Linked DNA regions of Homo sapiens: region 1 is linked to region 2. The links come from fine-mapping of genetic effects on gene expression. A gene starts in region 2. The other region holds a variant in brackets. All regions are shown on one strand. Distances are from middle to middle.

Region 1 (2,909 bases), 46 kb after region 2:
ACAAGGGGTGCAGGGGAACGCTGAAAGAAGCATCTTTAAGATCAAGTGTGGAATAGTGAGTTGTGGAGGAAGGTATTGAGGATGAAAGAGTGTATGGGTTGGGCACCACAGGGTGGATAGGCAAAACAATTTGGTTGATAAGGCGCAGATCCTGAACTAATCTGTAAGACTTGTCCGGTTTCTGGACAGGTAAAATGGGGGGATTATAAGAAGAGTTTATAGGTTTTAGAAGCCTATGCTGTAGCAGGCCAGTGATAACAGGCTTTAATCCTTTTAAAGCGTGCTGTGGGATGGGATATTGGCGTTGAGCGGGGTAAGGGTGATTAGGTTTTAATGGGATGGTAATGGGCATGTGATCAGTTGTCAGGGAAGGAGTAGAAATGTCCCATATTTGTGGGTTAAGGTGGGGGGATATGAGAGGAAGACGCAAAGGAGGCTTTGGGTTGGGGAGAAGGGCGGCAATGAGATGCGGCTGTAGTCCAGGAATAGTCAGGGAAGCAGATAATTTGCTTAAAATATCTCGGCCTAATAAGGGAACTGGGCAGGTGGGGATAACTAAAAATGAGTGCTTCAAAGAGTAATGTCTAAGTTGGCACCAGAGTTGGGGAGTTTTAAGAGGTTTAGAAGCCTGGCCGTCCATACCCACAACAGTTATGGAGGCAAGGGAAACAGGCCCTTGAAAAGAAGGCAACATGGAGTGGGTAGTCCCCGTTTCGATTAAACAGTGGGTGGACTTACCCTCCACTGTGAGAGTTACCCAAAGCTTGGCGTCCGTGATGGTCTGGGGGCTTCCAAGGCGATTGGGCAGCGTCAATCTTCAGCCGCTAAGCCAAGGAGTCAGTCAGAGAGCCTTGGGCCAGAGTTCTAGGGGCTCTGGGAGTGGCTGCCAGGTGAGTTGAACAGTCCGATTTCCAGTGGGGTCCCGCACAGATGGGACACGGCTTAGGAGGAATCCTGGGCTGCAGGCATTCCTTGGCCCTGGTAGTCAGATTTCTGGCACGTGTAGCAAGCTCCTGGGGGAGGAGGTTCTGGAGGAACGCCTGGCCGCTGCGGTTCAGGCATTTGGAAGTTCTTGTGTGCTGGAGATGTGGCTGGGGTTTGTCTCACAGTGGAGGCAAGGAATTGCAACTTTTTTCTATTATTGTACACCTTGAAGGTGAGGTTAATTAAGTCCTGTTGTGGAGTTTGAGGGCCAGATTCTAATTTTTGGAGTTTTATTTAATGTCGGGAGCAGATTGGGTAATAAAATGTATATTGAGAATAAGACGGCCTTTTGACCTTTTAGGGTCTAGGGGCTGAGGAAGAATTGGAACCTAGCTCGGCCTGGCGAGGAGGGGAGAGGTCAGATGGGTCTGTAGAAAAGGAAGATTAGAAAGACTCAGCAACGCTTGGGGTTGGGACTGAGGG[G/A]ACAGGCGGGAGGGAAAGAAGGAAGATTTGGGACGAGTTGCACTGGGCACAGAGACTAGGAAGGGACTGATGTGTAAAAGAATGCCTGGACATCAGGCACCTCAGACTGTTTGCCCATTTTACGACAAGAATTATTTAGATCTTGCAGGATGGAAAAATTGAAAGTGCCGTTTTCTGGCTATTTGGAACTACTGTCGAGTTTGTATTGGGGTCAAGCGGCATTGCAGAAGAAAATAAGGCATTTATTTAGGTTTTAGGTCAGGTATGAGTTGAAGAGGTTTTAAGTTCTTGAGAACACAGGCTAAGGGAGAAGAAGGAGGAATGTAGGAAGGTTGCCCATAGTGAAGGAGGCAAGCCCAGAGAAAAGAGAGCGTAGAGACATGGAGGGAAGGGGTTTGGGGGTTCTTACCCTCCAGAAAAGCGGGAAAGGGGTTGGGGCATGGAAATAAGGGATTGGGGCACAGAGATACGAGTTTGGGGTACTTGCCTCTCCCCCAGAAAAGCGGGACTTGCCGCTAAGGGTGAAGGAGAAGGGGTTGGGGGGTTCTTGCCCCTGCCCCAGAAAATCAGAGAAGGGGTAGAGACACGGAAAGAAGGGGTTGGGGTCCTTGCCCCTTCCTCAGAAAAGCGGGACTTGCCGCTAAGGGTTATGGACCAAGGCAGGTGTCCCTGCGTGGTCTGACACCTCTGAAACGTGGGTGAATGATCAGAGGCGTCCTTGCAATGATTAAACACCAAGGGAAGGCTGCCTTCCCAGTCCGTGACCGGCGCCGGTTTTTTGGGTCCACAGATAAAACGTCTCCTTTGTCTCTACCAGAAAATGAAAGGAATTGAAATTAAGAGAAGGGAGAGATTGAAGTGTGGCGCCTAGATTGAAAGGAGAAAGACGGTGAGGGATAGGGAGGTTGGAGAAGAGAGTAAAAAGAGGCTGCTTATTGGATTTGAAATTGGTGAGATGTTTCTTGGGCTGGTGGGTCTGAGGACCTGAGGTCGTAGGTGGATCTTTCTCATGGAGCAAAGAGCAGGAGGATAGGGGATTGATCTCCCAAGGGAGGTCTCCCGATCTGAGTCACGGCACCAAATTTCATGCGCGTCCATGTGAAGAGACCACCAAACAGGCTTTGTGTGAGCAACATGGCTGTTTATTTCACCTGGGTGCAGGCGGGCTGAGTCCGAAAAGAGAGTCGGCAAAGGGTGGTGGATTATCATTAGTTCTTATGGGTTTTGGGATAGGCGGTGAAGTTAAGAGCAATGTTTTGCGGGCAGGGGTGGATCTCACAAAGTACATCCTCAAGAGTGGGGAGAATTTCAAAGAACCTTCTTAAGGGTGGGGGAGATTACAAAGTACATTGATCAGTTCGGGTGGGGCAGAAACAAATCACAATGGTGGAATGTCATCAGTTAAGGCTATTTTTACTTCTTTTGTGGATCTTTAGTTACTTCAGGCCATCTGGATGTACACGTGTAAGTCATAGGGGATGCGATGGCTTGGCTTGGGCTCA
Region 2 (2,909 bases):
CAGGGGAATCACATCTGCCATGGGACAGTATGTGTCCTGCCGCCAGCCCCAGAAGTTCAGATGGGCCACCCGCAGCATGGTGCCAGACTCATTCAGATACAGGATACCAACCAGTCTCCGTAAGAAATAGCTCATCCAGCACAGCATGGTCAGGGCAAAGCCCGATATCCCACTCATGAGGCACACGGTGTTGAGAGTGAGGAGGCCCTGGGAGTACAAGTAATAGCCTGGTGGCAAAGCTACCACTGTCAGGGCAGTCTGTGCCAACTTCAGTCGTGACAGGAACCCGAAGGTTCTGATGGCATCAAAACGGTAAAACATCCAGAATTTCTCAGTCTCTGCGTTTGGTAGTTTCTCCTTCGAGATGGGTGAACTGCTGCCCACCCACCTCTTAGGATCCTCCTGCCCACTGCAGCACCACAGCCCATGGAGAGGCCTTTCCCACACAGCTTTTCCCCGAAACCTACGCACAGCTCGGAGAAGGGCAGCCTGAAAGGGAGACAGTAGACCATTTCTCTCATGGAACTCAACCACATTAATCACACGGTGAACATCTGCAAAGCACCATACTCTAAGGCTTCTGCCAATCCTGCAAGGTAACCGTTATTGCCAGACGAGGGAAGGGTAAAGCCAGATGCTATCTCATGTGGGCATCACAACAGCTATCTAAGATAGTTATCACTATTTCCACTTTACCACTAGGGAAACTAAGCCCAGAGAGGGTAAGATATTTACCAAAGATCACACAGTCAGTGAGTGCAGCAGAGTCCTCCTTCCACCAGGCAATTCCAAATAAATACAGGAAAGGAGGTGCGGCCGTCATTAATTCAAAACATATCCAGGGAGGACAAACTCTGGGCTGGACAATGTATCCACAAGGGGGTGTGAACATTTCCCCAAGCAGGAAACTAAATAATCAGTGTCTTAGTGGGGAACTCGAGCAACAAATCTGTGAGATATTTATTCCAATAAACTTTCTAATTCTCTGTTTGATTCATATGCTATCTTGGGTGCTGGAGGGAACTGCTGCTTTCTCTTAGCCTAGTCTGGGGAAGGGGAAACAGCGGAGAAGGAGAAGGAGCGAGGCAGGGAGGCCCCAACACGTAGCACAAGGGTATTACTAGGTGGGTAGTGAAGCAGTAAAAGCTCTTATTCCAATTCTGGCTCCAACAGTAATTTGTGAGCAAATTACTCCACACCCCTGAGATTCGGTTTCTTCGCCTTTCAAAATGGGGACTCAGAACACAGTGAACCAGAGGATGGTTTCAGAGTCCTCAACTTAGTACCTAATGCACTGTGAGAGCTCGGCGAGTTTTAGCTACTACTACTGTGCGCATGTGACCCAAGGAGGGCAAGAGAAAGCCCGGGAAAAGCGAACTGTAACACACGCCAGAGCTTCCTCCCACGGATCCTCGGAGTCCGAAACCCGAGCGTCGGGCCTGCCCGCCCCAGCCCTGACCCCGACCCCAAAGAGCATCACCCCCTCAAGGCTCGCCACCCGCCTCCTTACCATGGCCCCACCACCTGCTGCCGGAAGTAAATCCCACCGGCCCCCGGAACCCCTAAGAGCGCATGCTCGAATGTACAAGGCGGGCGTGATCTGCGTTGCACCCTGGGAGTTGCGGTCCAGGAATCGTGGCTGCCGCTACTCCCAGGCGTTATGGGAACGGAGTCCCCTCCTCTTCCCGACGTGCCCTGCGACTCAGCGGCCGAACCCGGAAGTTCCGGGCCGAGTTCCTCGTGCCAACGTGTCTTGTAAGGTGCGGCTAGAAACTGGGGACATGGCAGCGCCTGGCCCAGCGCTCTGCCTCTTCGACGTGGATGGGACCCTCACCGCCCCGCGGCAGGTAAGTGGCGGCCGGCGGGCTGCTGGCAGCCGACGCGGAGCCCGTGCTGTTCCCAGTTGGGGCTATCGACCACCCAGGGTAGGCGCCAAGGGGTGGCTAAGGACCGCCTACGTCCTCACGGCGCTGAACCCTATTCTGGGTGCACTGGAGGAATGAGAGGGAGGCCCTAACCAGCTCTTGAAGAGCTCTGGTGCTTGGAAAGATGAGACGGGGCTGAAGAACTCTTAAGAGCAGGAAACTTGTGCTAGGTTGGAAAATGTAATCTGGACTCACCGCTAGTGCTCGGGACTGATAGACCAGGATTTCAACCCAAGATCAGGCCCCCTTATCAGCTATGTGTCGGCCCCAATCCTGTAACCAATGGGCTGTGCCGTGAGTCATGATATTAAAAACAGGTTTCCAGGTCAAACCGACCTAGTGGAGTCTCATCTTCACCTCTTGACATCTGTGTGACCTTCAGCGAGTCATTAACCTCTCTGAGCCTCAACATCTACAGCTTTAAATGGGGATGTTACCTGTTCCATATGGTGTCTGTGAGGATCAAATGAGATTGTGTAAGTTCTTGAAAGTATGTTGGACACAACACACTAGGCCTCAGTAAATAGTAGCCACCTCCACCACACCCATCTCCAGCCCCTGCAATGGACTAGGGAGATGGAGGAGCCCTAGGTTATTACAGGCTGCCCGCTGAGAGCCTCTTTGGGCCCTTGGAAACTTGCTTTCCACTTTCAGATTTTGCTGCTACAGGCACAGATAAGTTTCAGTTACGATCAGCCTTGAGGTGAGGCTCTCCTGGCCCCTTTTCAGAAATTGGCCACTGAACACTGGCCATTTCAACTTGAGACTGGACCCCAATGGTCTCACTATCCTCAGCTTCTACCCTCACCCCTCATAGTTTTCGCTTGGTGGTAACAATGGTGTGCTCCAGAAGTCCAGGTCAAATGCGTGTGACCTTAGACGTATCATTTTGCCCTTCTCAGCCACAGGTTTGATTTACCTAGTGATGACGCTCAACTCCCAAGTTCTTCAAAGGCTTTTTCTGATTCTGAAATTCAGTGATCA

The links.
Region 1: its variant is fine-mapped to the expression of PMM2 in subcutaneous fat (GTEx, PIP 0.94).

The regions. Positions count from the first base shown.
Region 1 is chr16:8,842,538-8,845,446 of GRCh38, forward strand. The region is part of intron 7 of PMM2 (phosphomannomutase 2); the gene reads left to right. Among named protein-coding and RNA genes, the nearest start is that of CARHSP1, 25 kb to the right of the region's middle. The variant G/A (reference allele first, on the strand shown) is at 1,408.
Region 2 is chr16:8,796,102-8,799,010 of GRCh38, forward strand. It overlaps PMM2 (phosphomannomutase 2), which reads left to right and starts at 1,738. Exons shown (of 8, transcript NM_000303.3): 1 at 1,738-1,847. The coding sequence starts at 1,782. It overlaps TMEM186 (transmembrane protein 186), which reads right to left and starts at 1,538. Exons shown (of 2, transcript NM_015421.4): 1 at 1,511-1,538; 2 at 1-489. The coding sequence starts at 1,513. RefSeq lists enhancers at 1,132-1,826, 1,465-1,514, 1,827-2,521.